3 linked regions of the Homo sapiens genome follow. The protein of the gene in region 3 purifies or fractionates together with the protein of the main gene of each other region. This does not show direct contact. Each region holds a gene or a part of one and is shown on either strand. Other genes may lie near its edges. The genes, in order: SPSB1, SULT1A3 and TTC1.

Region 1 (9,816 bases), on a different chromosome or scaffold from region 3:
CTGAAGGGACCCAGTAGATTTTGGTGTCCTGGATGCCAAGTGAGGAAGGGGCTTTCAGAAGGGCAAAGTAGCAGCAGGTCAAGTACATGGACGGCTGAGAACCGTCCATCAGCTTTGGCAACAAGGAATTGGCAGTTGACCTTGAGGAGAGTCACTTGGGTCAGGGGGCACGGGAGGAGCCTGATGGAGTGGCTGGAGGAAGACAGACAGGGTATTCGTCTCCTGGAGCTGCTGAACACATTACCACAAGCAGGACAGCTGAAAACAGCAGAAGCGCTCAGGAGGCCAGGTGTCTGCGATCAGGATGGTAGCGGGCTCGACTGCCTCCGAGCTCTGAGGGGGAGCCCGCCCCATGCCTCCCCTCGCCCCTGGGGGCTGCCGGGAATCCTTGGCGTCCCTTGGTCTGTAGATGCCTCCCTGAGTCCCAGCCTCTGTTTCCCCAGGGTGCTCCACCTGTGTATGTGTCTCTCCGTGGCCCCTCCTCTTCTTAGAGGGACACCAGCCATTGGATTCAGGGCCCACCCCAATCCACTATGCCCTCGTCATAATGAAGTACATCCGCAAGGCCCTGTTTCCAGATAAGGCTCCACTCTGAAGTTCTGGGCAAACATGAATTGGAGGACACTGGTCAACCCGCTTCAGATGTGGAGGCAGCCAGTGTAGACCATCTCCATGAGGCCTTCCTCTCCCTGTGCTGCCACCTGTGGGGGGTGAAAGATGAGCCCGGAGCTCCATCCTCTCACGTCACCCCTACCGATGCTGGGGTGCCCATAGTGAGGTCAGAGCCCACCCAAGTCCCCCGTCCCGGGAGAGTTGGCTTTGCCTTCCAATACAACTAAAGAAGGGGGGTGTCCTGGTGAGATCGAATCCCAGGGTCTGCCCGGGAGCAGAGCATGACAGATGGAGGCTCTGGCCAGGCATGGCTGGATCTGTCATTTTCTTTTTTTTTTTTTTTTTTTTTTTTTTTAGAGATGGGGTCTCACTATGTTGCCTAGGCTGGTCTCAAACTCCTGGGCTCCTAAGTGGTCCTCCTGCCTCGGTCTTCCAAAGTGCTAGGATTACAGGCGTGAGCCACCATGCCCAGCCGGATCTGTTTTCTTGGTGGCAGACCTGATCTGGGGCTTTGCTGTCTCTGTCTTGGAGGTGGAGGTAGTTCCACTCCCTGGGATATCTGGAGAATCATCAGTGTCCCCACCACCCCTGGATTCGACTTCCACGAGGGGCAGCTGTTTGTAGGGCAGCTCCAGCAGTTTGCCTGCGTGTGTGCCTTCCCGGGGGTCTCCCAGCCCACTGTCCCCTGTGGCCTCTTTCCTGCATGCCAGGCAGAACCCCCCCGCAGCAGAGTCCCGGCTTCTACACTGGGGCCGTGGCCGGGCGGAAGTAGGGGTACTGAGTTCTCGACGTTTCCCTGTGCGGCCTCCCCACTGTCCAGCCTGCTGGGGCCACAGGCCCCGTGCTCTGATTCCTCCTCAAGGCTCGAGGCACAAGGCCTTGTGCTGAGGATGCAGCCAGAGAGGCTGCTGTGTCACTCTCCCTCTCTCTCCTGGAGGGCAGGAGTGGAGATGGCCATTGCTGAGTGGGGAGACACAGGGCCTGGCCTGACCCCGGGCCTGCCCGCCACCCTCCCTGGAGATGTGGAAAGGCCTGTTTGCAAGCAGCAGGCTGGCAGGCTGTCCAGGGGGAGCCCCTGACCTTGTGGGTCCTCTGGCTCTACCCCCACTGCTTTAAAGACATCTCCCACTGAGGAGGCATCTTCCATGCAGTTCAGCATTTTCGAATTTTCTTTAACGGCTCCCAGATGGGTTTGGTGTGGTTTGTCGTGGTTGAAGGTTCAGGGAAGGTCAGCTCGTCTCCTCAAGATCAGAGCCTCCTCCCGGGTGCCTCCTTCCTGCACTCCACTCCAGCTGGACTCTGCCGGGAGCTACTCATCGGGAGACTGATACACCGCCACCAGGGCCACCCACCCTCCCTCCCTCCCTTCCTTCCTTCCTTCCATGTCGGGGAGGGGTTGTCCCAGACCCTATTCCCCACACCCTCCAGAAGTTCTGGTCATATGAGGACCGCAGGCTCTCAGAGTTTGGGGGGGATAGGGGACCAAGGGTGTCTGATCACCTAGGTGGATCTCAGGCGTCCTTCCCCAGTTGACAAGGACAAAGGCTCCACGTTGTGTTTGGCTGTGCTCTTTCGTAAGAACTGCGTAGTGTAGAGGAAAACACACACACATCCTATGATGGCCACCCGACCCGTGACATTCTAGAATCCATGTCCTGGAGCGTGGTCCCCACAAGCTGCTTGCAGGGCCAGCCACAGGAGCCATGACAGCTGTCAGCGAGGACATTGCGGAAGCCGGGGCATTCTCTGATGCGGAACATTTTTCCTTGACCTCACCGTTCTGCAGCTCGTTCACTCAGCCCGTGAACTGGGCACAGCACCACACTCTTGAGGCTTGAGTTGGGTTGAAATCTCTCGGGGAACAGTGAGACAGTTGTGGGTTGGGGCTCTGGGGCTGTGCATGTTCACGTGGGCCACCAGGTAGCCGTTTCTCACAGAAATGTGGAAGCTGGTGCACTGTCTCTTCCAGTTCCTCAGGCTTCTGCTCCCAGAAATAGCGCCTGATTGACTTCCTGATTTCTTTGCTGCTCATTCAGCATTGCACTCTCATTCACAGAAATTATTTAAATGAATGAGCGCCTAAGCTTCCTGGGGATGGGCATAGCAGCCAGAGGCCCCAGGCCACAGTGCAGGTGCCCACCCCCTCGGTAGATTTCAGCAGGCACCTGGGTTTGTGGCTGGAGCTGGGTGCAAAGCTGGCAGCCCCCAGTCAAGAGTGTGGAGGTTGGGGAGAACTCCCTGGTACTGGTAGTGACCAGCTGAAATGGGGGCTGGGCATTTTTTCACGGCACGAAGCCCACGTCTGTTTCTGTGGCCATGCATTCTTGGTCTCTGCCCAGCCTTTGGAAAGCAGTTAGACCGGGCCCTATGCGCCATCAGTTTCCTCCTGCAAGATCAAGGAGGCGTGACCTGTTTATGTACTTGAGGACCCAGAGAAGAGACCCATTCACAGGATGCCTGGGTGACTCTGGTCCTATTTTCAGCTCATAACACATCACTGCAGCCATTCACTGCCACTTCTCTAGCCCGTCTTGGTGGATCCCATGACCCATCCCTAACTGGTTTATTCAGTGAGATCCAGAGATGGCCAGGCTGTGGCAAGTCCTCTACCCCACACAGCTGCGTTCACAGGGGATGGATTGTGGCAGCTGGAGGGCCTCATCCCTTTGGAGTCCATGGCTCTCAGACCTTGGACCTGTAACTCTCACCTCCCCAAGCCCATTTCCCTATCTGTAGGTTGGGGTCACAGTCCCCATCAGGCACACGACTGGTGCCCCACAGGCCATGGCTGGGGCTGGGGCTGCGGTGTCAGCCACTCAAAATAAGGCACTGGATGGAGCTGGGGGCTCATGTGGGCCTCTGCAGTTTTAGAAAATTTTTTTTTTTTTGGAGATGGAGTCTCATTCTGTCACCCAGGCTGTAGTGCAGTGGCGCAATCTCAGCTCACTGCAAACCTCTGCCTCCCAGGTTCAAGCAATCCTCCTGCCTCAAACTCCCAAGTAGCTGGGACTACAGGCATGCACGACCACACCCAGCTAATTTTTGTATTTTTAATAGAGATGAGGTTTTGCCACACTGGCCAGGCTGGTCTCAAACTCCTGACCTCAGGTGATCACCCACCTCGGCCTCCCAAAGTGCTGGGATTACAGGCATAAGCCACCGCGTCCAGCCTAGAAACATTTCTTCATGGGTTGATTGGAAACCCGTTACACCAAGAGGGTAGTGACTGAACTCCCTCTCAGCCCTCACTGCTGCAGCCTGGCAGGGCTCTTGGGCCACATTCAGTGGCTCTTGGAGCTTTCTCAGGTGCTTTCCAGCCACGAGGGAGAGCCCCTCCACTTTCCGGCGGGGGCTGAGCCACATTCTCCCGGGAGGGAGCTCAGGGCAGCCCAGACCCCTTGGCCCTGATGCAGGCCAGATGCAGGCGCGCTCCCAAGCAGAGAAGAGAACACACCTGCAAATTCCCCACTCCTCTGTGCAGAAGACCTACTCCCGACAGCCAGGCCAGACCACAGGCTGCGATAAGCACTTCTGGCCTTCAGGATCTTGGCTGCATGGGACTTTGGGGAGAATCTGGTCTGGATTCCGTGTCTTACAGATGGGGAAACAAGTCCGGGCAGACGGAGGGATGTGCTCCAGGTCAGGCTGCGGGGCAGGGTCTGGAGTCACCAGGCTGGGTGTTTTACCCGAGGGAAACCCAACCCTGTGAGGAGCCGGGTGGGTGGAACCCAGTCCCACCCCATCACGAGGGGTCTGTGGGATCCTTGACCTTAAAGAACCCAAGGTTATTTCATTCCTCCATTCGTCTCCAATCAGAGCTCCTCTTAATCATCCTAAGCTGGCCACGAAAGGCCCCCTTTCAAAATTCTCCATTAAAAATACAGAACATTTCAGTTCCTTGTCAGGAGCTGTGGCTGTGACCGTCCATGGGGGATGAAGAGCAGTGGTCCCTCTTCTTTTGTTTATTTATTTTTTCAGTTTTGGGGTTTTTTTGTTGTTGTTTTGTTGTTGTTGTTGTCGTTGTTGTTGTTGGTTTTTCTGAGACAGAGTCTTGCTCCGTCACCCCAGGCTGGAGTGCGATGGTGTGATCTCGGGTCACTGCAACCTCCACCTCCCAGGTTCAAGTGATTCTCCTGCCTTAGCCTCCCGAGTAGCCGGGACTACAGGCCCATGCCACCATGCCTGGCTCATTTTTGTATACTAATTTTAGTAGAGATGAGGGTTCACCATGTTGGCCAGGCTGGTCTTGAACTCCTGCCCTCAGGTAATGCGCCGGCCTCGGCCTCCCGAAGTGCTGGGATTACAGGCGTGAGCCACCACACCTGGCCTGTTTTCATTTTTGAGACAAGGTCTCTGTTACGCAGGCTGGAATACAGTGGCACAATCACAGCTTACTGCAGCCTTGACCTCCTGGGCCCAACCGATCCTCTCGCCTCAGTCTCCCAAGTCCTGGCTGATTTTTATTTTTTGTAGCGATGAGGTCTCCCTATGTTGCTCAGGCTGGTCTCAAACTCCTGGGCTCAAGCAGTCTTCTGTCCTTGGCCTCCCAAAGTGCTGGGATTACAGGTATGAGCCACTGTGCCTGACCTGGTCCCTCTTCTTTTAAAGCTTGGGGTTTAGTAAATGCATTATCAAGCCTAAGGTCCATTCTTCTATTTTGTAACAGCTTTACTGAGCTATAATTCACATACCTTACAATTCACCCATTAAAGTATCCAATTCAGTGGCCTCTTGCGTGGTGAGATGTAGGAAACAATTTTAGAACATTTTCATCACCCCAAAAAGAAACCCTATACCCATAAGCAGCCTCTCTCCATTCTGCCATGCCCCACCCGTAGTGTTTGGTCTTCAGTAATTGATTTTCGTATATTTGAGACACATTGGTGAATATTAAAGAACTTTAATCCACTTTTTACTGGTAGGATGGAGTTTTGCGGGTTCCTTTTAGTTTTGGGGGCTATTTTGCTCACAAAGGAGTCTCAAAGTCAAGGGGAGACCGTGGATGAAGCCTCAGATCCATTAGTTTCAGGGCTTTCCATCTGCAGAACAGCGTGGGCGGCCCCACGAAGGTCCAGGTGTGCTCACTCCTACCTGGTTTCAGGAAAGAGAGCAAAGAGGGGTCTGCTCTGGCGAAGCGGGCGAGCAGGGCCGCGCAGCCTTCCAACGCTCAGAAGCCTTGGAAGGCATGAGTTTCAGACTCCTGAGATCTGAAGCTGACGGCTCATCTGAGATGCAGCTGAATGAACTCAGCCTCCTTTGTAGGAAGGCAAGGCTGGGCGCTCTGGGAACACAGGATGGAGGTGCCTGGGAGGCTGCAGCTGGAAGCGCTCTGTAACCCTGGGGCCTGAGGCAGCTCTGCCCAAGTTCCCCTGGCTGTGAGAGAGCCCCATGTGCCTGGGGCAGTTGCGGGGAGAAGGCCCAGGCAGCTCTGGGGGATCAGCTGAAACTGGGCTGGCATTTCCAGTTTCCTGGGGCCTGAGCTTGGCCTGGGCCCTCAGCCTCACTGTCAGACAGAAGCACAGACACCCGGGGTTTCTCTGTCTCCATGTGGCACAGAAATGACACCTTCAGGCCGTGGGGCCAGCCAGGCCTGTCACGTATGATTCAGGACAGGGTTTGCCATGTCTTCCTTTGCAGCATGGTTAGTGGCTAAGGGCATGGACGCTGGGCCCAGGCTGCCTGGATTCAGATCCCAGCCCTGAACCTTGGCACACTGGGTGTCCCCTCTGTGCCTGTGTGTCCTCAGTTCTTTTTTTTTTTTTTTTGGACCGAGTCTTGCTCTGTCGCCCAGCTAGAGTGCAGTGGCGTGATCTCAGCCCACTGCAACCTCCATCTCCCAGGTTCAAGCGATTCTCCTGCCTCAGACTCCTGAGTAGCTGGGATTACAGGCACACACCACCACGCCCAACTAATTTTTGTATTTTTAGTAGAGACGGGGTTTCACCATGTTGGCCAGGCTGGTCTTGAACTCCTGGCCTCAAATGATCCACCCACCTTGGCCTCCCAAAATGCTGGGATTACCAGCGTGAACCACCATGCCCAGCTAGTCTTCAGCTTTAAAACAGAGGTGAGAATGGTATCTGAGAGCAGCTGGTAACAGAAAATGATTCCCTTCCTGAAGCTAGTGCTGGGGGTGCGTGCCAGGAAGAGCTGGCTCCCATGTGTTCCGACCGACAGGCCCCAATGGCAGCTGCTTGCCTGGACAGGCAGAGTCACCAGTGGGGAAGAGCAGGGATCGCCTGGGTTCGAATCCTAGCTGCATCTCCTGCCAGCAGGGCGACCCCTGGCAAGTCATTTAGACTCTGTCCCTCAGTTTCCTCATCTGTAAAATGGGGATGAAGGTAATGGTGTCTCTGTGACTATTAAGTCATTCATAAGAAACCACTGTGAGGATTAAATGAGTGTTAGCAGAGGGCTCGCCCAGGTGCCCAGCCCAGGGTGGGCTCCTGGTGGCAGCTATTCACATGCTAAATTTAAAATGAAAAAGCATTGCATTTTTCATTGTTTCTTTACTGATTTGAGTGAATACTAATCAGTGATAATATTGCTGCTGTGGTTAGCGCTGTTTGCTGAACACCCACCCAAGCTGCGCTGACCTGCAGTTTCTCTGTCTCCCCAGCCGAGCCGCTGCCGCTCATGGATTTGTGCCGTCGCTCGGTGCGCCTGGCCCTGGGGAGGGAGCGCCTGGGGGAGATCCACACGCTGCCGCTGCCGGCTTCCCTCAAGGCCTACCTCCTCTACCAGTGACGTTCGCCATCATACCGCCAGCGCGACAGCCACCTGGTGCCAACTCACTGAGCCGCCTGCCGCTGGGGCCGCCGCACCCTGCACCTTGGACCGGCATCCGTAGCCATGGACAGAGGTCCCTGGTCTTCCCTCATCCTCCGTGGCTGCCTCCATGGGACAAGGACCGATTCCAACACAGGCTCCTCTTTCCCCCTTCCCGACATCAGCAGAAGGCAGCATCCCTGCATGCCGTCCGTATACAACCCCTCTTTGAAAAAAGACACAGAGAATAAACTCCTACGAAAGCCCTACATTGAGCTCCAATCTGCTCGGGGTGGGACGGGTGCTTCCCACACCTCTGGGAGAAGGCTGCAGCCACCTGGGGGTCCCAGGGTGGTGGGGGTGGCAGGTGGTACCACAGCTCTGAGAGCAGATACCAGGGGTACTAAGAGGTGCTTAGACAAGGGCTGGTGCCCGGCCCAGGGTGCCCAGCGGGGCCATGCCATGGCAGATAAAGCTCAGGACGTCAAAAACTCACCATGGACCCCAAGGCAGAAACCAAGAACTGTCTGCAGGCAAATAAGCACCCAGCACCCATCCTGGCTGCCGGTGCCCCGTACCCTGTATTTATTCTTTTAACAATAACAAAAGCCATTTATTTATTCCATCTAGAAAGGAAACCCTGTTTCAGTCCCCTCTCTCTGGCTGTTCTGTTACTTTCCTTCCACCTGTGCCCTCCCTGGGATATGTATGCCTCGCCCGCCCTCCCTGGGCACATGTGCACACGTGCCCAGGCACAAGTATGTCTCTGGGTCCCTTGCCCTGCAGTTTCCAGGGGGCTCTGCTCCAAGTTCCCTAGCGGGCCCCTCAGGGAGAAATAGCCTCACGTGCAATCTGGGTGTCTTCGGGGGCCCGTCTGGAAGGGCTGCAGCAATTCCCCTGTGTCTCCAGGTAACCAGCTAACTCTTGGGCTCAGGCACCCTTGCACAGGGTTGCATTTCTTTAGTCTTCTGTGGGTCTTTTGATGTGGGTTTGATTTTGCTTTTGCTTTTCTAGCTGAGATTTCCCAAGTGCATCCTCAGAAGCTCTGGGTGTGCCAGAGGACCCCCAGAACTAAGAAGGGAGGGCGAGTGGGTCTCCATTCCCCGAGAAGCCGGGGGCAGGGTGGGATGGGGAAGACCAGGAGCAGAGTCGAGCCTCACAGAAGCCAGCGCGGGTCTCTGCTCAGCACCCCAGCCGGGGCTCTGGACCCAGGGTAACAGCCCCAGTTCATCCCAACCCCTCTCAGAGCCTCAAGAGGGGTAGCTCGGCTGCCGGAAGAGAGGGGTGCCCTATCCCTGGCAACCCCTCCACGTAGCGTACCCCAGCACCTGCCACCGCCTTTGCCATTTCTTTGAGCTTGAAGTTAACTCTCTTAGAGTCTAACTTTGGTTCATTTCTGCACAGGTACAATAGATGACTTTATTTGTTTAAAATGTTTAATATATATACATACATATATATATATTTGTCTGTAAGAATTATGTTTTAAACAGCTGCTGTAGAGTACCTTTTTTTAAGTAAATCTTACAGTGGAGTATATTTTTTAAAGCACAAAATTGGTGCCAAGACTGGGTGAGAAATGTACATTACCCCCTTATTATTTTGACGGTTTTTTTTTTCGGGGCAGGGGACCTTACCTGTAAGACTTTTAAAGATTTTCCTCCCTCCTGTTTCAGGTGGGTCACATTCTGATGAATGTTTCCCTTGTACAGATCCCAGCTTATGGCCTTGACCCAGCCGTCCTCACAGATGCCGGGTGACCCTCTAGCTCTCTCTGCATCTCCCACCCCCCGACACCCTGGGACCCTCGACCCCACCCTTCTTTCCTACCAGCCCAGAGCCTTGTGGCTTGTACAGTTTTGAAACTCCCGTTCTATTTTATGATGGTTGATAATAGTCAGTAACCTAATAAAGGAACGTTTGTTAAAATATCAAACCATTTTTGAATTCCTCGTTTGTGCCTCGGGGGAGGGGAAAGAGACATAGCTGACCCCTCCTGGGTCCAGCCAGCTCCACGGCCCACAGTTTTCAGCAGATGATGGGCTGACTCCCTACCACCCCTTGGCAGAGGGTGGGATGCCAGGCAAAGCCCCAGACAGAGAAGGAGAAGGAGAGTCCTGGAGGGAGGACCCCAGAACAGCCTCATCCCCATTTCAGAAGTTCCTCAGCCTGGCAGCCCAAGCTGCAGAAACTTGCCAAGTCTAACAGACAGTGATTCTGTGCCTTCGTGAGCGCATCAGGTTGGTTTGTGGGGTTGTAGAACTTGAGTTGACCGTGGGCTTTTTAGGAGCAGAGTGTGAGCCATTGTGGGCGTCCTCAGAGTCCAGGCTCTAGGGGAAGGAGCAGGTCCTTCATTCGTCTTTGTGTCCCCTGGGGCTGAGTGCACGGTGATGTTTGCTGAACTGTTGCAGAGTGAACTTGTTCTGCTAGCCATGT
Region 2 (8,233 bases), on a different chromosome or scaffold from region 3:
TGGAGGCTGGGGGTCCCAGCAGGAAATGGTGAGACAAAGGGCGCTGGCTGGCAGGGAGACAGCACAGGCAGGCCCTAGAGCTTCCTCAGCACAGCTGGACTCTCCTGGAGACCTTCACACACCCTGATATCTGGGCCCCGCGCTACGAGGGTGCTTTCACTGGTCTGCACTATGCCCCAGGCCCTGGGATTTTGAACAGCTCTGCAGGTGACTGAAAGGTGCGGCCAGGCTGGGGAACGACCTGGTTTCAGCCCCAGCCCCGCCACTGACTGACTTTGTGAGTGCGGGCAAGTCACTCAGCCTCCCTAGGCCTCAGTGACTTCCCTGAAAGCAAAAACTCTGCAAAGGGGCAGCTGGGTGCTGGCTCACACCTGTAATCCCAGCACTTTGGGAGGCTGAGGTAGACAAATCACTTGAGGCCAGGAGTTCTAGACCAGCCTGGCCAACATGGTGAAACCCCATCTCTACTAAAGAAAAAAAAAAATTAGCTGAGCATGGTTGTACATGCTTGTAATCCCAGCTACTTGGGATGCCGAGGCGGGAGGATTGCTTGAACCCAAGAGGTGGAGTTTGCAGTGAGCTGAGATTGTGCCACACTGCACTCCAGCTTGGGTGAGAGTGAGACTCCATCTCAAAAAAAAAAAAAAAAAAGAGAGAATCCCACTTTCTTGCTGTTGTGATGGTGGTAAGGGAACGGGCCTGGCTCTGGCCCCTGATGCAGGAACATGGAGCTGATCCAGGACACCTCCCGCCCGCCACTGGAGTACGTGAAGGGGGTCCCGCTCATCAAGTACTTTGCAGAGGCACTGGGGCCCCTGCAGAGCTTCCAAGCCCGACCTGATGACCTGCTCATCAACACCTACCCCAAGTCTGGTAAGTGAGGAGGGCCACCCACCCTCTCCCAGGCGGCAGTCCCCACCTTGGTCAGCAAGGTCGTGCCCTCAGCCTGCTCACCTCCTATCTCCCTCCCTCTCCAGGCACCACCTGGGTGAGCCAGATACTGGACATGATCTACCAGGGCGGCGACCTAGAGAAGTGTAACCGGGCTCCCATCTACGTACGGGTGCCCTTCCTTGAGGTCAATGATCCAGGGGAACCCTCAGGTGCATGGCTGGGTCCTGGGGGTAAGGGAAGTGGAGGAAGACAGGGCTGGGGCTTCAGCTCACCAGACCTTCCCTGACCCACTACTCAGGGCTGGAGACTCTGAAAGACACACCGCCCCCACGGCTCATCAAGTCACACCTGCCCCTGGCTCTGCTCCCTCAGACTCTGTTGGATCAGAAGGTCAAGGTGAGGCCGGGCTCAATGGTTCACACCTGTCATCCCAGTTTGAGACTGAGGAGGGAGGATCCCTTGAAGGCGAGAGATGGAGACCAGCCTGGGCAACATTGCTGTAGAGATGACATCCCATCTCTACAAAAATAAAATTAACAACCTGGTATGGTGGCATAGACTGTTCCCAGTTACTTAGGAGGCTCAGCGGGGAGGACTGTTTATGCAAATAGGAAGCTGCAATGAGCCCTGATGATCCTGCTGCTGCACTCCAGCCTGGGCAACACAGCAAAACCATCTCTACGAAAAAAAAAGTTCCCACTGACTGGCAAGGAAAGCCAGGAAGGGGGGCTCAGGTGCCCTCTCAGCCATGTACCTGTTCTTCTGGAAGGGCCTCCTCGCTTCTGCCAGGCTCATCACATCTTTTTTTTTTTTTGAGACAGAGTCTTGCTCTGTCACCCTGGCTGGAGTGCAGTGGCATGATCTCAGCTCACTGCAACCTCCGCCTCCCCAGTTCAAGTGATTCTCCTGCCTCAGCCTCCTGAGTAGCTGGGATTACAGGCGTGTGCTACCACACCCGGCTAATTTTTGTATTCTTTTTAGTAGAGACGGGGTTTCACCATGTTGGTCAAGTGGATCTCAAACTCTTGACCTTGTGATCCTCCTGCCTCGACCTCACAAAGTGCTGGAATTACAGGCGTGAGCCACCGCGCCTGGCCCTTTTTTTTTTTGAGACAGTTTCACTCTTGTTGCCGAGGCTAGAGCGCAATCGTGTGATCTCGGTTCACTGCAACCACCGCCTCCTGGGTTCAAGCAATTCTCCTGCTTCAGCCTCCCAAGGAGCTGGGATTACAGGTACCTGCCACCACGCCCGGCTAATTTTGTATTTTTAGTAGAGATGGGGTTTCACCATGTTGGTCAGGCTGGTCTTGAACTCCTGACCTCAGGTGATCTGGCCACCTTGGCCTCCCAAAGTGCCGGGATTAGAGGCATGAGCCACCACGCCCAGCCTTCATCACATCTTGAGAGAGGACACTGTCTGCCTCTTGCTCTGATGAGGGTCTGATGCAAGGATAGTGAGTCTCTACAGTGCACACTTAAGAAAGGCAGCATGTGGGTGCTCACAGGTCAGCGGAGGAGGGGGAGCTGGTGGGGACCAGGCATGCCTTGCTCCAGATCAGGATATGATGGCATTGGTGCAGATTATATTAGTATAGAATATGGTCTCAGGAACCAGGCAGGACTTTGGCTTCCGAGCAGGGTTCAGATCCCAGCTTGGCCCTACCTGTGCAGTGAGATCTCAAGCAAGTCAGCCTCTAAGCCTCAGGTTCCTCCTTTGCCAGTTCAACAGATGAGCTGGCCTGGGGTGGGCTGTGTGGTGATGGTGCTGGGGCTGGGTCCTCTGCCCCTGCAGGTGGTCTATGTTGCCCGAAACCCAAAGGACGTGGCGGTCTCCTACTACCATTTCCACCGTATGGAAAAGGCGCACCCTGAGCCTGGGACCTGGGACAGCTTCCTGGAAAAGTTCATGGCTGGAGAAGGTGGGCTTGACTGGAGGAAGGAGGGTGTGAAGCCGAGGGGTGGTGGCTATAACGTACAGCAACCCTGTGTCGGTGCCCCCTGCCCGCTTCTCTAGTGTCCTACGGGTCCTGGTACCAGCACGTGCAGGAGTGGTGGGAGCTGAGCCGCACCCACCCTGTTCTCTACCTCTTCTATGAAGACATGAAGGAGGTGAGACCGACTGTGATGCTTCCCCCCATGTGACACCTGGGGGCAGGCACCTCACAGGGACCCACCAAGGCCACCCAGCCCCGTCCCTGGGCGGCTCCCACAGCAAGCCCGGATTCCCCATCCTACCTCCCTGGCCCAGGCCCCCCCACTGCAGCCCCACCTGGCAGCAGGCTCGGCACAGCTTTCATCTTCTGCACCTGAGTCAGCTGCATGGGTGGCCACGGATCAGATACTTAGTCCTATTGCTTATCCTCACCAAAGGGTGTGCCACCCAGGGCCACAGTCATGGAAGAAGACCATCCCGGTCCTCACCCATAGGCGCCAAGCCCTGTTCATGATGGGATCACAGGGCAGAGATCAATTCATTTTACTCCAGAGACTAGGGCCCCAGGGGTTGAGGCTCTTTGGGGTTTCTAGGGGAAGTGGCCAGATCCCCTCTGAGGTTAGAGAGGGGGACCCGTTTTGTTTTGCTCCACTGAGGAGCCCTCTGCTGCTCAGAACCCCAAAAGGGAGATTCAAAAGATCCTGGAGTTTGTGGGGCGCTCCCTGCCAGAGGAGACCATGGACTTCATGGTTCAGCACACGTCGTTCAAGGAGATGAAGAAGAACCCTATGACCAACTACACCACCGTCCCCCAGGAGCTCATGGACCACAGCATCTCCCCCTTCATGAGGAAAGGTGGGTGCTGGCCAGCACGGGGGTTTGGGGCGGGTGGGAGCAGCAGCTGCAGCCTCCCCATAGGCACTTGGGGCCTCCCCTGGGATGAGACTCCAGCTTTGCTCCCTGCCTTCCTCCCCCAGGCATGGCTGGGGACTGGAAGACCACCTTCACCGTGGCGCAGAATGAGCGCTTCGATGCGGACTATGCGGAGAAGATGGCAGGCTGCAGCCTCAGCTTCCGCTCTGAGCTGTGAGAGGGGCTCCTGGAGTCACTGCAGAGGGAGTGTGCGAATCTACCCTGACCAATGGGCTCAAGAATAAAGTATGATTTTTGAGTCAGGCACAGTGGCTCATGTCTGCAATCCCAGCGATTTGGGAGGTTGAGCTGGTAGGATCACAATAGGCCACGAATTTGAGACCAGCCTGGTAAAATAGTGAGACCTCATCTCTACAAAGATGTAAAAAAATTAGCCACATGTGCTGGCACTTACCTGTAGTCCCAGCTACTTGGGAAGCAGAGGCTGGAGGATCATTTCAGCCCAGGAGGTTGTGGATACAGTGAGTTATGACATGCCCATTCACTACAGCCTGGATGACAAGCAAGACCCTCCCTCCAAAGAAAATAAAGCTCAATTAAAATAAAATATGATTTGTGTTCATGTAGAGCCTGTATTGGAAAGGAAGAGAAACTCTGAGCTGAAAGAGTGAATGCCCGGTGGGGCCACATATGGTCACCTCTCCCCCAGCCTTCAGCTCCCCAGGTCACCATATCTGGGGAGGGGAGAAGGGTTTGGAGAAGTAAAACCCAGGAGATGTGTGGAGGGGGGATGTCTGTTTAATCCCAGCACATCCTCTGCTGTCCTGCCCCAAGATGGTGGAGGACGTCGAGTCCGCCGGGCAGCGTCACTTTTTCTTGGGCTCCTTAGAAGCTACCAGGTACCTCTGGGCCACACTGAGATGAGGGGAGTAGCCGTCTGCATAGGAGGTGTCTTCAAACAGGATAGAATAGTCCTCCTGGGGCTGTGGGGCAGGTGGACAGGAAGGGCAGAGAGCAGCCCCGGGGCTGGTGTCACTCACTTGTTGGTGGCATGGCTGTAACTGACCACCTCGGCCAGGATCCACTGCTCATCCCCATCCACGGCCTTCACCCGGGCAGCCACCTTGTCTCCAGGTCTGGCCACGTAGTCTCCTGAGGCAGGGATGGCCCCACAGAGGGGTGGGGGCCTGTGAGTGGAACAAAGGATCAGTCCCAGCCCCTGGGCACCAGCCCCTTCCTCGCAGCTGCTGCCCTCACTTGTCACCAGGCTTCCCAATCCACAGGGGCAGGGTCATGGCCGACTGCTGCAGCAGGGTCATCAGCACCCCTCTGCGCATGGTCTTCCGGGGTGGCTCCAAGTCATTGTAGAGACCCGCGATCTTGGCCACTGTGGGAAGAAAGGGAGGCCTGAGGCCCCAGGGACAGGGGCTGGCCCTGACCCCCCAGCATGCTGAACTGAGCTGCTGGAGGAGCACCTGGGAGCCCCCAGCTCCCGAGTGAGCCCGAGGGCACAGCAGGACTGTGACCTGATCTGCCAGGTGTCCTACAGGGGCTGCTGCGCTCAACTACATATGGGTGAGACGGCAGCACACCAGGCACCCAGGGGAAGGAACCAGGGAGGGACAAAGCGGGTTCTGAGGTGCTGGTGAGGTTCTCTTCTTGATGTCGGTGCTGACACAGAAGTGTGTTTCGTTAGTGAAAAGTTCCTAAAATTCGAAGGGTCCCGCGGGAATCGGGGCGAGGCCGGGTGCCTCTTCAGCGTCCAGCTGCTCTACTGCCTGAATCCCTGGTACCCGGGCCCTGTCTACGTGGGGCTCACTGTCAACCCTGTTCGTCCAGCAGCACAATGGTGGCCGCAAAAAAGGCGGGGCTTGGCGGACCATTGGCCGAGGTCCCTGTTAAGAGGGGGAGGGTCTCTGTGCCCGGAGGAAGGCTCCCTGGAGGAGGCGGAACCGGGGGGCACAAGCCTGCTGAGAGGGACCCACTAGGTCTGTGACGTGCGCGGGACGTCCCGGGCGAGGCCTGTTGGTGGGGGGAGGCTGTCGCAGGGGAGGAGCCTAACGGGGAGGCGGTGCCCTGGGAATCTCGGCGTTAGAACTCCGGAGAGCAGCTGGCTGAGGCGAGGGTGATGATCCAGGCTGGGGTCCAGCGCAGGGGTCTTGGGGGGCACGCTGGGGTCGGGTGGAGCGCAGGAGGGAGAGGAATGAGAACAGGTGGGTACCTGGGCTGGAGGCGGGACCTGAGGTGGGCAGGTGCAGGGGGCGTGCCTTCAGGCAGTTGCGGGGCCAGGGCTCGGCTGAAGCTGGGAGTGAGGACCCCGTTCTCCGGTGGGATAGGAGGGGACCCGCGATGCTGGGCTGCGCTGGCGGTAGGGCGCGGCGGGGCTCACAGGAACATTCCTGTTCTCCTCCCCATGGAGATTGTGCTCGTCGTGCACGGCTTCCCATCCGCCGCGGCCGCCCTTCGGGTAAAGAAGAAGACCGGGCGGCGGCCTGTGGCCTGGATTTGGGGTCCGACCCCCGCCCGGAGCCGCCTTGACTCCAACCCCGCCGCGGTTGGAGGGGGCCTGGCACCCCCGCCCTGGGCGCTCCTCCCGGTCCCGTTGCGCCCCGACCTCCGTCAGCCGCACGGCACTGGCCACTGACCGTCGGGCCTCCTCCGCCCCAGGGCGCCGCGCAGGTCCCTTTGCTGACGCCGAGCCTGAGCCTGAGCCGGTCCCGGGGTCCAAGAGGGCTGTGTGCACCCTGCGCGTCCGCGCGCTCCAGGGGAGGTGCGCTCCAGGGGAGGTCCGCCCCAAGCAGAGCGGCACATCCTCCAGACGACTTCGGATCCTGCTGTTGAGGAGCCAGGAAACGCCCTGACACTGTTGCGGCCCTGTCCACATCTCTAAGATGGGGATGGATGATAGTACTTCTGGCCATTCCTGAGCACAGCAGGACCTGCCTTTTCCCTTTGACTGGAAGGTTCTTCTCTACATCTTCAGTCTTGATAACCTGCCACCTCCACAGGGAGGTCTTCCCTGGCTCCCAATTTAAAATTGCAGCTCTGAGAAGCCGGGCATGGTGGCATATGCCTGTAGTCCCAGCTACGGGGGAGGCTGAGGTGGGAGGATCGCTTGAGCCCAGGAGTTGGAGGCTGAAGTGAGCTATGATCACTCCATTGCACTCCAGCCTGGGGGAAACAGCAAGACCCTGTCTCTAAAAAAATAAAATACAATAAAATTGCGGCTCTTTCTTGTGCACTTCCCTGCCCGCCCCCCTTTCCTGAACCCTTATTATTTTCTGCCATACTACAAATTTTATGCATCTCATTAAACCCCTTCCGAACCTGTGTACTAAACTGCCTGGGGGCAGCTCTCATCACTGCTGTAGAACAAAGTCCCACATAGAGCCAATGGCCAAGAAACAGTTAATAAAATAACAGACGATGGTCCTGGCCTCTACTGTGAGTGAGTAAAGGGCTTGCCCTGCAGAGATTCAGTGATCTGGCGGGGGTTGCTGAGCTATGAGGAAGTTCAGATCTGGCTGCAGGGGTGAGGCTGTGACTCAGTCAATCACTGCCCATGCTCACAGGACACTGGCCAGCTTAGTCCCTGGGGGCAAGGATTTTACCCCCCCCCCACCTCCATTTCCTCATCTCTAAGATGTGAATAATCGTCGCCCCTGCCTCACAGGATTGAGCTGTGTAACCCCCCTCCCACCTTTTTTCTATGCCATCCACTGCGGGTCTGGGGCTTTTTACTGGAATGCAATACAAAGTCTGAGTCAAGGGTGCCTTCTGTTGGTTGCTGAGGGCGGAGGCAGAGCTAGTTGCCTGTGGTCCTGCCAGTCAAGGGGCTTCCAGAGGAGGGAGGAGGGGCCTGTGGCCCTAGCATGTGAGCAGCTTCTCCTCTGCCTGGAAGCCGGACGCCTCAGCTTCTCCCACACTCCCACCTGCCCGCTTGCCTCTGAATTCACACAATTCTTGGAAGGCTTGGGAGACTCACCTTTACTCAAATGGTTACCTGTCTCGTGTCTCGTGCCCAGCTTGACCTTTTTTTTTTTTTTTTTTTTTTTTGAGTTGGAGTCTTGCTGCGTCACCCAGGCTAGAGTGCAGTGGCGTGATCTCAGCTCACTGCAATCTCCGCCTCCCGGGTTCAAGCAATTCTCCTGCCTCAGCCTCCCCAGTAGCTGGGATTACAGGTGCCCACCACCGTGCCTGGCTAATTTTCGTATTTTTAGTAGAGACAGGGTTTCACCATGTTGGCCAAGCTGGTCTTGAACTCCTGACCTCGTGATCTGCCCACCTTGGCCTCCCAAAGTGCTGGGATTACAGGCGTGAGCCACCATGCCTGGCCCCAGCTTGACCTTGAACTTTAAATAGTGAAGACAAAGAATGAGGAGGGTGGGGGGATGCCCTCCTTCCACAGGGCCCTGTGGCTTCCAAGCCTCAACCTCCTCTGGTCTCTTGTCTGTGGAGCCTCCTTCAAACCCAGGGAAACAAAAGCACCTGCCACGGGCTGCTGTTTTTCTAGGATCTTCTAGCGAAGCTCTG
Region 3 (12,677 bases):
CTCTATTTCCAAAAAAAAAAAAAAGAAAGAAAACCAATTTTGCCTAATTTTTTTTTTTTTTTTGAGACAGTGTTTTGTTCTGTTGCCCAGGCTGGAGTGCAGTGATGCAATCTCAGTTCATTGCAACCTCCGCCTACCGGGTTCAAGTGATTCTCCTGCCTCAGCCTCCTGAGTAGCTGGGATTATAGGCGCACACCACCAGGCCCTGCTATTTTTTTTGTATTTTTAGTAGAGATGGGGTTTCACCTTGTTGGTCAGGCTGGTCTTAAACTTGACCTCAGGTGATCCGCCCACCTCGGCCTCCCAAAGTGTTGGGATTACAGGCGTGAGCCACTGCACCCGGCCAATTTTGTCTATTAATTGCAGGTACTAACAAATGTCTGCTGAATGAATAACTCAATTTCTAGAATTACCCCGAATCTGTAGCATATGTGGGTTAATTTTCATTTAACTAACAAAGAAATAAAGGTGGAAACTATTACAAGTGTCCTTTCTGAATAAAATTAGCAAATCAAGGATTTAAATATTATAAACTTCTTTACATAAAGAAGATATTCTATAAAGAAGACAAATTACTGTAAATACTAGTTAGGATGAAAAATGGAAATGGTATGCTACTATTGCTAAGTGAAGAGTCTTCCTGTAAAGCAAATATCCATGACTTGGCTATAATCTTACCTTGTAATTTCCTATTTACTAACATAGTACCCCTATCTGCTTAATTACCTATACTATATTAGATGCCTGATTCCATGGCTGTGTAACTCATTCAATGAGCTAAAACTCATAATACTTATTATGTGCCAAACATTGTGCTAAGAGCTTCAAATGGATTGATTCACTTTCTTAAAATATTAGAAGTAGCTTGAATATAATTTTTTAATTGACAACAAAAAAACCACCCTCCAAAAAACCCAAAAATCCAAGCTAGAGAACTTCAACTGATATAATTTAAAATCCTGGGTAGCATGGCAAAATGTTAGAAAGTGCTTCTCTAGTCCCTTATAAATAAACCACTCTTCAGCAGACTACAATGCAGTGGCTGAGTAGGGTATTTCTTTTACTTTAGGTCAGTGAATACAACATAAACACACTTGACTTTGAGCTTATAAGTGTATACCCCATCTATCATTATTAAATAGTTAAAAACTTGCATGAAATACATTTAAAAAATAATCTCATATTTAAATAATCCTATGGTAAGCATGTGCTCAACAGACAAACAGGGGGAAAACCAAGACTCTCACTCCGGCAAGCTTATGTCCATATTATAAATCTATCAGCAGCTCTCTGCTGCCCTCTGCAGTTTTGTGAAGTAATTGCTACAAAATAAAACGGCATACACTTTATGCCAAGCACAGTACCCAGGGATCACAGTACCCAGAGATCAATAGCTGGAGTAAAAGAGAGCGTAAAGAGAGGTACATACTTGCTCAACTGCTGGAAAGTGGAGGCACATGCAACAAAACTTTCTGCTTTAGTCTTATCTAGGTGGGACAAGAAAACTACACTTGGAATGCAAATACTGGAAGGGCTAGGGACATCAGTTCTATAATTATTTTGAAGGGAATTCCTTATCATTAAAAAAATAAGCTTTTGGTTTTGTCTTCTTTGAAATCAGATATCACTTGCTTTACATACATAAAGACATATCTGTTCTTTCCACAAGTCACCTTTACAGGTCCTCTAGGGAGGCATGAGGGAGGATCTTTGGATCTAAGCCACAGTTAGAACCTGCCTCTCAGTAGGTGTTATCCTTCTGAGGAAAAAAATGACTGATCTATGAGGAATTAATCTTGGAAATAGTCCCTTGTTTCTTAAATCAGAAAATTCTATTTCCCAAAACTCAATCTTTAACAGAAATAAATTTTCTATGTCAGGACTGCTTAAATTCGGCCCAACAAGTTGTTTTTAGACCTTGATCAACGGATGTAGGTAAAAGAAAACCTCCTATTCAGTTCTTCCGATGTTGGATGCAGTCAATGTACGGGTTAGGTCAATACTTCTTGTTTTGGAAGCTTAGTCATCTGTGTCCATCTGGATCTGTTTCCCATGGTGTGGCCACAGTTCTTCCTATATCAAAATTACCTGGGAGGCTTGCTAACAAAACAGATGCCTGGTTGTTGCCTCACAGGTGTGTGGTGTCAGACACTTCTCAGGCTGTGCATGGTTAATACATTTCCTGTGATGCTTAGACACAATAAAGTCTGGAAACCACTGATCTACACAAAGTGACCTTTCTTAATAAACACAGGAAATACTGAACGTCATTTTAACTTTTCTGCCAGCAAATAATGTAAACACACCTCACTAACTTCCAAATGTTTTAGAGCAGCGGTCCCTACCCTTTTTGGCACCAGGGACTGCTCTTGTGGGGAACTATTTTTCCACGGACTAGGGTCTTGGGGAAGGGGGTGTTCATAATGATTCAAGCACATTACATTTATTGTGTACTTTATAATTATTAAACTGTAATATATAATCAAATAGTTATACAATTCACCATAATGTAGAATCAGTGGGAGCCCTAAGCTTGTTTTCCTGCAACTAGACGGTCCTACCTGGGGGTGATGAGAGACAGTGATAGACTATCAGGCATTAGATTCTTGTAAGGAGCAGGCAACACAGATCCCTTGCATGTGCAATTCACAACAGGGTTCACAAGCCTACGAGAATCTAATGCTACCATGGATATGACATGAGGTGGAGCTCAGACAGTAATGCAAGCGATGGGAAGTGGCTGTAAATACAGATGAAGCTTCGCTCACTAGCCTGCTGCTCACTTCCTGCTGTGTGGCTGGGTTCCTTACAGGCCACAGACTGGTATCAGTACATGGCCGGGGGTTGACGACCCCTGTTTTAGAGCAAGCAACCCTTATTTCCACTGGTTTAAACTTAGCATCAGGCCAGGCAGGGTGGTTCATTCCTGTAATCCCAGCACTTTGGGAGGCCAAGTGAAAGGGCCTCTACAAAAATAAAAATAAACAAACTTGGGATCAGAAATCTAAGCTCCTTCTAGGATTTGATTTAATCGTTTGTAGACAGCATTAAGTTCAACAGTGGTAACTCTAAGAAGTTGGTAAAACTGACCACCTTAGTTCCAAAGGATGCCTATTAGAAATGAAAGAAAAGGAGGCTGGGGCGGGCGGATCACTTGAGGTCAGGAGTTCGAGACCAGCCTGGCCAACATGGTGAAACTCCGTCTCTACTAAAAATACAAAAATTAGCTGGGTGTGGTGGTGGGCACCTGTAATCCCAGCTACTTGGGAGGCTGAGGCAGGAGAATCACTTGAACCTGGGAGGCAGAGGTTGCAGTGAACCAAGATCATGCCACTGTACTCCAGTCTGGGCGACAGGGCAAGACTCTGTCTCAAAATAAACAAACAGAAAACAACAACAACAAAAAGAAAACAAGAAATGAAAGAAAAGGGAGGCAGGAGGCAGGGCACAGTGGCTCATGCCTATAATCCCAGAACTTTGGGAGGCCGAGGTGGGTGGATCATGATGTGAGTTCGAGACCAGCCTGGCCAATATGGTGAAACCCAGTCTCTAGTAAAAATACAAAAATTAGCTGGGTGTGGTGGCACACGCCTGTAGCCCCAGCTACTCGGGAGGCAGAGAGAGAATCGCTTGAATCCGGGAGGCGGAGGTTGCAGTGAGCAGAGATCGCACCGCTGCACTCCAGCTTGGGCAACAGAGAGGGAATATCCATCTCAAAAAAAAAAAAAAAAAAAAAAAGAATGAAAGAAAAGGGAAACAACAAAATCAGAAAGGTTGCTCATGACGTTAACAGGACTATGCAGGCCACTATGGAAGAAGTTACTGAGAACTTTTTGGAAGCAATCGAGAGTATTCCCTGCAAACACATCCACAGCCACAACATTAATTAGATTATGAAAATGGTGCAATAGGGTGGCAGAAACATGGAAATCCAAAAGATTAAGTAATGTGGAATTTAGGAAAAATGACAGAGGGAAGAGACTGAAATATAACATCTGTTCTAAACTGAAACTTCTAAGCTTTGATAATGGTTCCTAAAGAGAAAATGACCTTAAAGAATAATCCTTAAAACTTTCAGAGCCTAATGTTTTAAAATCCCAGATACCAGGCATTCTGAATCCATGTTCACCAAGCAACAGACTTTTGGATCCCTTATGTGTACATGTAAATGAATACCATTTGCAAACCACTAGTGAAAGGGAGCAAACCCATTGAAATGACTAAATCTGCATTTTGGCTTACAAATAAAAAATGTTTGTTTGCAGGAAAGAATTAAATCACCAGAACCTGGATAAGTTCAAAGTTCCTTCATCTTCTTCATATTAATAAAGGCCACACCATCCATCCAGTAGCTGAAGACAAGGAATCATTCTAACGTCTCACTCCATCCCGCCAATCGAATCCACTGCAATGTGTGGTCTGCTTTACCTCTGAAATATATCCCAAAATCATACACTTCTCTTCAGATCCACAGTTCAAGCTACTATCATCTTCACTGGGCTACTGCATTAGAGCCTAATTGGGCTCAAATGTTCTATTCATGTCCCTCCTCCATCCTCATACCCCTCCATTCTCTGTATAAGAACTGAATTCTCTTATTAAAATGTAAATAACTTCCGTCTCTCCCTGGCTTAAAATTATCCATCTGTTTCCTTCTGCACTTGGAAAAAACTTCAAGTTCTTTACTACGGCTTAGGAACTATTCCATAATCAGACCCTTGCCTACTATCAGCCCACTCTCTTCCTTAATCATCATGCTTCAGCCATCGGCTCTTCCATTCCTTGAACATGCCAAAACACCAAACTTGTTGTTACTTTAGGGCTTTATTCAACTGCTCTCTTTGTCTGCAATGCTTCCCTCTCAGACGGTCACACATTTGGCTGCTCCCAGTGCCACCCTCCCCTAAGTCTCTGTTGAGAGGCCACCTCTCCAGAGAGGCTTTCCTGACCAGCCAATCTAAAGCAGTCCTCTCCACCTGTCTTAGTCAGGTTGCTATAACAAAATAACAGACTCAGTAATTTATAAATAATAGAAATTTATTTTGCACAGCTCTAGGGGCTGGAAATTCCAAGATCAAGGCACCAGCAGATTTCGCGTCTGGTAAGGGGCTTGTTCTTTGCTTCAATATGGTGCCTTCTTTCTGCATCCTCACTTTGTGGAAGGGGAGTAGAAGGGCCCAACAGGTTCCCTCAAGTCTTTTATTGGTATACTTTATAAGGATACTAATTCTTCTAATCACCTTCTAAAGGCTCCACCTCTTAATACTACACATTGAGGATTAAGTTCAACATGAATTTTGGAGGAAAACATTCAAACCATAGCACCATCCTTCCAACCCAACCCATCCTTCATGTTAACATTTTGTCCTAATTCTCCAATGAGAGAACAGAAACCCTGTCTTGTTCACCACTGTATCCCTCAGGGCCTCAAACAATGTCTAGTGGGTGGAAGAAATGTAAATATTACTTGAATAAATGTGAGAAAAAAATTTCTGTAACTTATAAGGCCAATTATTGGCTCTCATGGGGGAGAAAAAGATGCTATTCATTCAACAGCTATTTAATGAAGGAAGATTGTGCAAAACCTGTGACAGTGGTCCTCAAGCCTCAGCATGTGCATATGAATTACCTAGGAAATTTACACATGAGACCTAAGAAACTGCACTGTGACAAGCAGTCCATAAAAGGCGATTTTCTTATGGAATCAATACTAGCATTCTGCAGTATGTGCCATAGGTCCTAATACTATAAACACTTGCTATGGTCTGAATGTGTCCCTCCAAAATTCATGTTGAAATAATCCCCATTGTGTTGGTATTAAGAGGTGCGTCCTTTTGGGATGTGATTAAGTCATAAGGGTTCCAACCTCATGAATGGATTAGTGTCCTAATAAAAGAGGTTGAAGGGAGCTGCCCTGCCCCTGCTGCCATGTAGGGACACAAATGGTGCCATCTGTAAGGAAGAGGCCCTCACCAGACACTAAAATTGCTGGCACCTTGATCTTGGACTTCTCAGCCTCCAGAATTATGAGCAATAAATTTCTATTATTTATAAGTTATCCAGTCTAAGGTATTTTGTTATAGCAGCTCCAACACACTAAGATAGAATTTTTGTATCATAATGTTATTATTGCAATTCTCTTCTGCTGCTACATTTGTCCTTCACCTTAGCCAAGCCTCTCAGAACCAGTTATTTGCTTCACATACCTAGTACATCTCAAATGTTAGCTAAAATTCCATTCCTGTGGGTAGTTATATCTACATTTAAGCTTTCACAAATAGTTAAGATTTACTGCTGAAATAAACACACGAATACACTATACTCTCTGAGAGCTTTTCCTGTTTTTACCAAATCTTAACTGCTTTCCTCCTCAATTATTCTTGATTTATGAGTCCTGCTGAGAAGTGACACTACACTTGAGCGTGAATTATCTTCCCAGCCACAGGACAAGTGAAGTTAGCTTGATTAACAGACTTTGGCTACTATTATTTGGTTGTGTCCAACAAGAAACCTTTAATACTACATAGACCCTGTACGGAATAGCACTTCTTTCCCAAATCATCAGGGGTCAGCTTCATGTGCTTTTGTGGTAGGGCACACAGTTTGGTTGTAAAGTAATCAATTTTTATTTATTTATATTCTTAAAATGGAATAATGTAATACAGGCTTACTGAAAAAAAAAGCAAATATTACAAAATTGCATTACATATAAATTAAAATTCCCTAATAATCATACCTCTCAAAGTTACTTACTGCTTATACTTTGGTGTATATCCTTCAAATTTGTATGTATAAACATATTTTCACATAGCCTTAAAAGAAATCATCACTGTTGTATAACCTGATTAATTAATTTGACATTATATTACAGGCAGCTTCCCAGGTCAATACCTACGATTCATCTTTTTAAAAAAATTTTTTAAATTATTTATTTATTTATTGAGACAGAGTCTCATTCTGTCACCCAGGCTGGAGTGCAGTGGCGTGATCTCGGCTCTCTGCAACCTCCGCCTCCTAGGTTCAAGCAATTCTCGTGCCTCAGCCTTCTAAGTAGCTGGGACTATAGGTGTGCACCGCCATACCTGGCTAATTTTTGTATTTTTAGTAGAGATGGGGTTTCACCATGTTGGCCAGGCTGGTCTTGAATTCCTGGTCTTGAGTGGTCTGCCCACCTTGGCCTCCCAAAGTGCTGGGATTATAGGCATGAGCCACTGCACCCGGCCAAGATTTACCTTTAACAACTGCATTGTATACTACATAAATATAACAACAAAATTTAAGTAATACTCTGGGAAGAACACATTTTTCTCTCCTACTATACCCTCCCAATAGGTCTGACACCAGATGAGAGTGTTTTCCACACTAAACAATTCTCCAATGGACACCAACGGAGTGTCCTATAATTCAATTCAGTTCTGTCACTATCTCCAGGTAGACAGTGTCTGATCCCACAGGTTAAGAGTTTAGTCTCATAAGCCTGGCCCCACTTCAGACACTAATCACAAGTCCCAGGTTGTGACCTATGATTCCGACTGAATGGTTAGCACAGGGTTCTTACCACCCTCTCTGTGGGTTCAATAATTTGCTAGAATGGCTCACAGAACTCTGGGAAACACTTTACTTACACTTAGTAGTTTATTACAAAGGACATTATGAATGATATAGAACAGCCAGGTGAAGAGACACACAGGGAAAGGTAGAGGGAGAAGGGGTGCAGAGCTGCCACGCCCTCTCTGGGTGCTACCCTCTTAACACTTCCATGTGCTCATCAACCTGGAAGCTCATCAGATTTCTAGTTCAAGAGTTTTTATAGGCCAGGCGCAGCAGCTCACACCTGTAATCCTAGCACTGTGGGAAGCTGAGATGGGAATATTGCTTGAGTCCAGGAGTTCGAGACCAGCCTGGGCAACATAGTAAGACTTCATTTCAAACACAAAAAAATTTAGCAAGGTGTGGTGGAAGGCGCCTGTGGTCCCAGCCACTTGGGACATTGATGTAGGAGGATTGCTTGAGCCCAGGAGGTTGAAGCCTCCAGTGAACTATGATCGCACCTCTGCACTCCAGCCTGGGCAACAGAGCGAGACTTGGCTCAAAACACAAGAAGAAAAAAGCTTTAATGGAGCTTAATCTCCAGCACTTGCCCTCCTCCTTTCCTGGATTTTGGTAGGTGGTGCCAAAAGTTCCAACCCTCTAAAACTCTAATCACTTAGTCTTTTTGGTGACTGGCCCCATCCTTCCTTAGGCTATAGATAGGCCAGATCCTAAAAGTTATCTCATTAGGATGAACTCAGGTGTTATCAAAAGGGGTACATTAAGAATAACAAAAAAATACACTACACTATCAGAAAATTCCAAGGGTTCTAGTGGCTCTGTAACAGGAACCAGGGACAAAGACCAAATAAATTTACTATACTACAAATACCCTGTTTAACATTGTCTAGCTTTCCAAAATTATGAATGATGCTGCAACACATCTATGTATATACATTTGTGTATATTTCTAATAATTTCCTTGAAATAAATGGCTACAAGAGAATCAGCGTTAATGCTGTCATGTCCAATATGGTACTTACTAGCCACATGTGACGATTTTAAAATTATTTATTTATTCATTTTGAGACAAGGTCTCACTCTGTTGCACAGGCTGGGGTGCAGTGGCGTGATCATGGCTCACTGCAGCCTTGACTTCCCAGGCTCCAGGGATCCTCCCACCTCAGCCTCCTGAGTGGTGGGGCTACAGGCTTGTGCCACACGTGATTATTTTTATTTTTAAAGGCTTTTTAAAAAATTTTAATTAAAAAAAAATTTTTTTTTTTTTGGAAAGACAGGGTCTCACTATGTTGCCCAGGCTGGTCTCAAACTCCTGGGCTCAAGTGATCCTCCAGCCTCAGCCTCCCAAGTGCTGGGATTATAGGAATGAGCCACTATGCCTGGCCCATGTGACTATTTATTTATTTTCTGAGACGGAGTTTTGCTCTTGTCTCCCAGGCTGGAGTGCAATGGCCCAATCTCGGCTCACTGCAACCTCGACCTCCTGGGTTCAAGCAATTCTCCTGCCTCATCCTCCTGAGTAGTTGCGATTACAGGAGCCCGCCACCAGGCCTGGCTAATTTTTTAATTTTTGGTAGAGATGGGGTTTCACTATGTTGGCCAGGCTGGTCTCGGGTCGAACTCCTGACCTTAGGTGATCTGCCTGCCTCAGCCTCCCAGAGTGCTGGGATTATAGGTGTGAGCCATCCCGTATGACTATTTAAATTAATTACAATAAAATTCAGTTCCTCAGCCGTAATAGCCACATTTCAAGTGCTCAATAGCCTGATGTAGTCAGCAGCTACCATACTGCATGGTGCAGGATGTAGAACATTCCTATCCTTGTAGAAGAGTCTATTGATAGCCCTATCTAAAGAAATGGTCACATAAAAATTTGGTATCTGCATCCCATGAAGTGACATAACAATTTAAATTCTCAATATTAGTATATGAGTTCCAACATCCTCTCCTTGTCAACATCAGATCAATATTCTGATCTGATAGATGAGACATAATGTTTTAGTTAGTATTTTTTTTTTTTTTTTTGAGACAGAGTCTTGCTCTGTCACCCAGGCTGGAGTGCAGAGGCCTGATCTCAGCTCACTATAACCTCCATCTCCCAGGTTCAAGCGATTCTCCTGCCGCAGCCTCCCAAGTAGCTGGGATTACAGGCGCACACCACCACGTCCAGTTAATTTTTGTATTTTTAGTAGAGATGGGGTTCCATCATGTTGGTCAGGCTGGTCTCGAATTCCTGACCTCATGATCCGCCCGCCTCAGCCTCCCAAAGTGCTAGGATTACAGGCATGAGCCACCACGCCCAGCCTGTACTTTTCATCATTATTAATGAGGCTGAGTCTTTTCACATTTTTTGGCCATTTTTTTTTTTTAGTCATTGTTGAACTATCTGAACTTTATTTTAAAAGATTCAAATATAACACTATCCTGTTTCTGATGAGCTATTAAAGCCAAACCATATATGTAGAAGACATTTCTTCAATCTGTTTCGCTGGCTTCTTGAAAATTTTGGAAAGATATTTATCAAAATAGCATACAAACACCTAATAAGAGTAGTACCACAGTTAGCTGAAGGCAATCTGCACTCTTATAGGTTGTTTCCTTAAAGTAGAGTCAGTGGCTTACATTTCTCTAAATAATAAGACTAGCACTGCAGTATGTTACTGTTATGAGATATTCTTACAAATTTTCAAATTAGCTATGAAAACACTTAGACTGATATATAAATGAATAGAAAATATTTATGTTTTAAACATGAATACTACTGTATGATTATGTTTATATGAATGTCTGGAACAGGAAAAAACCACCTATGGGACAGGAATCAGAAGAGTGGTTAACCAGAGACTGGCAGGGTTGGGAAAGGAATGACTGATAAAGCACACAAATGGAGTTTCTGACATGATGGAAATGTTCTCTATCTTGATAGAAACGTGAACTATGCAGGTGTATACAATTGTCAAACTCACTGCATTCTACACATGAGAACTGATATACAGTTTCACTAAATTATATCTCAATTTTTAAAAGGAGGAAAAAAGTGAAAAAAAGTATTGTTCTACTTAGAATATTAAACTTACAGGCAATAAAAATAATTATCCTCACTGGGTGTGGTGGTTCACGCCTGTAATCCCAGCACTTTGGGAGGCCAAAGTGGGAGGACTGCTTGAGCCCAGGAGTTGGAGACCAGCCTTGGCAACATGGTGAGACACTGTCTCTACCAAAAAACCCACAAAAATTAGCCAGGCAGGGTGGTGCAAGCCTGTTGTCCCAGGTGCTCAGGAGGCTGAGGTGGGAGGATCCACTTGAGCCCAGGAGGTTGAAACTGCAGTGAGCCGTGATCACATCACTGCACTCCAGCCTGGATGACACAGTGAGATCCTGTCTTAAAAAAAAAAAAAATCATAAAAGTATTTATAGAACTTAAAGTATGATTTTCTGGCCTAGGAGACACAAAAAAAGTTTTACTAAATTAGAGGTAGGGATCAGACTTTGTGACACCTTGAGCCAAACCATTCAACTGTCAAATCCAGAGGGCACTAGAAAATTAATATAATTTCAGGGCAAAATATATTAAGGTATCAGAAAAGCACTACTAACTTTTTAACATAGATGCATAATCAGTGTTTCTAAAAAGCCTGAAACCTGTTATAATGTTATGGAACAGTAGTTAATTTTTTTGAGCTGTATTTGCTGTGGTAGTTTATGAACTTGGCTCACTTTTGCCCTTTTTCCTCCTGTTCTGGTGGTGCACACTAGCACAAAAACGAACACGTTCACATTAAAGCTAACTGATTTGATAATGAAAAGCGTCTAAGGAGAGAGAAAGAGAAGATGCTCCTACCCACCCCAGGCTACCTTCCCACCCCCACTGTTAGGCTTAGGCTGAACATTTATTATCTCATCTCAATACCAATGTATCACAACCTGTTCAGTGAGTGAGCTCCTTAGTGGCATAAACTACAATCTAGTTCAAGTTCTTTGTAGACAAACTCAAGACATTACAGTAACTCTTCAGAGACTACCTTGCTTGTGCAATCAGAAGGAAGTAGGACAGCAGGACTTCAGTCTCCAAAAGTGAAGGCTTGCCCAGTTAAGGGTGTGGCCCCAGGGCAAAGAAACAGGAGAGTGTACATTTTATTAGTCTATCTGCTTTGTAGGAAGACAGATGTTTTTGTTATTACATTATACATTATACTCTAGCTTTGGAATCCAACAGATTTGATTTGAGAATTAGTTTTGCAATTCATTAGGTGTTTGATCTTGGGCTAGTTACTTCATCCCTCTAAGCTGTTTCCTTATGGGAAATAACAGTATGTATCTCATAGGCATGTTGTGATGATTAATGAAAACACAAGTAACATTTTAAGTCAGTGGATGGCACATTGTAGGCATTCAACAAAGGATAGCTAGCTATAATCATACACAATTCTGTTTCTCAAGACCTCTGCAACCAAAACCCCACCAAGATATTCAGGCAGTCATATTTTGCTAACAAGGGATTAGCATAAACAGGAAATGTTCATAAACATAAATGTAGCATAAACATAAAAATGTTCATTACAGAAATCTCAGCAGCCAACCGTAGAAAAGTTCATAACAGAAAACTAAAAAGTATATATACATTTTGAAAATAAACAAAAAGACTGTTACATTACAGACTCCTGAAGTACAAGATGAACATAACTGAAGGTTCACAGAAAATAATGAAAATTTCTTTGTTAAGCAGACACACTCAAGTGCTTCCCTGTCACGCCACCGATTTATCTCAGATCCAACACTACTAAAGCCATAAGAAGACAAAGGGGCAAGTTATTCTTTACCACAGATGAGGTGGTCTATGATACAGTATCGACCACATTTTAAAATGCAGTGTAAGTGGCAGATCTTGCACAATAAATAAAATACTTACCTGTTTCTCTTCATCCGACATGTTTTTTTCCAGTTCTATTAGGTATTCTTCATCTAGTTCAGAGGAATTCACATCTTCATTAGATTTGTTCTCAACCTTGTCCGCTCCTGGCTCCTCCTCAAATGAGGCACTGCAGTCATGAAAACACTCCTCTTCTCCCTGGTCCTCCTGGAGATGGGCCTCATCATCCCTGAGCAGCTTACTCTGGGAATGCTGA

What was found.
Region 1: the proteins of TTC1 (region 3) and SPSB1 purify together in Homo sapiens (co-immunoprecipitation; 2 studies listed by BioGRID and IntAct, with this or other methods). This does not show direct contact.
Region 2: the proteins of TTC1 (region 3) and SULT1A3 purify together in Homo sapiens (affinity purification with mass spectrometry, with the first as the bait; 2 studies listed by BioGRID). This does not show direct contact.

What each region holds. Positions count from the first base shown.
Region 1 is NC_000001.11:9,360,217-9,370,032, forward strand, and holds the end of SPSB1 (SPRY domain-containing SOCS box protein 1), read left to right. Parts: intron 1-7,231; coding exon 7,232-7,359; 3' UTR 7,360-9,316; downstream 9,317-9,816. UniProt on the Homo sapiens protein: Substrate recognition component of a SCF-like ECS (Elongin BC-CUL2/5-SOCS-box protein) E3 ubiquitin-protein ligase complex which mediates the ubiquitination and subsequent proteasomal degradation of target proteins.
Region 2 is NC_000016.10:30,200,004-30,208,236, forward strand, and holds the end of SULT1A3 (sulfotransferase 1A3), read left to right. Parts: intron 1-721; 5' UTR 722-725; coding exon 726-873; intron 874-977; coding exon 978-1,103; intron 1,104-1,192; coding exon 1,193-1,290; intron 1,291-2,686; coding exon 2,687-2,813; intron 2,814-2,908; coding exon 2,909-3,003; intron 3,004-3,501; coding exon 3,502-3,682; intron 3,683-3,804; coding exon 3,805-3,917; 3' UTR 3,918-4,307; downstream 4,308-8,233. UniProt on the Homo sapiens protein: Sulfotransferase that utilizes 3'-phospho-5'-adenylyl sulfate (PAPS) as sulfonate donor to catalyze the sulfate conjugation of phenolic monoamines (neurotransmitters such as dopamine, (R)-adrenaline/epinephrine, (R)-noradrenaline/norepinephrine and serotonin) and phenolic and catechol drugs.
Region 3 is NC_000005.10:160,010,642-160,023,318, reverse strand, and holds part of TTC1 (tetratricopeptide repeat protein 1), read right to left. Parts: coding exon 12,461-12,677; intron 8,661-12,460; exon of another isoform or gene 4,288-8,660; intron 1-4,287.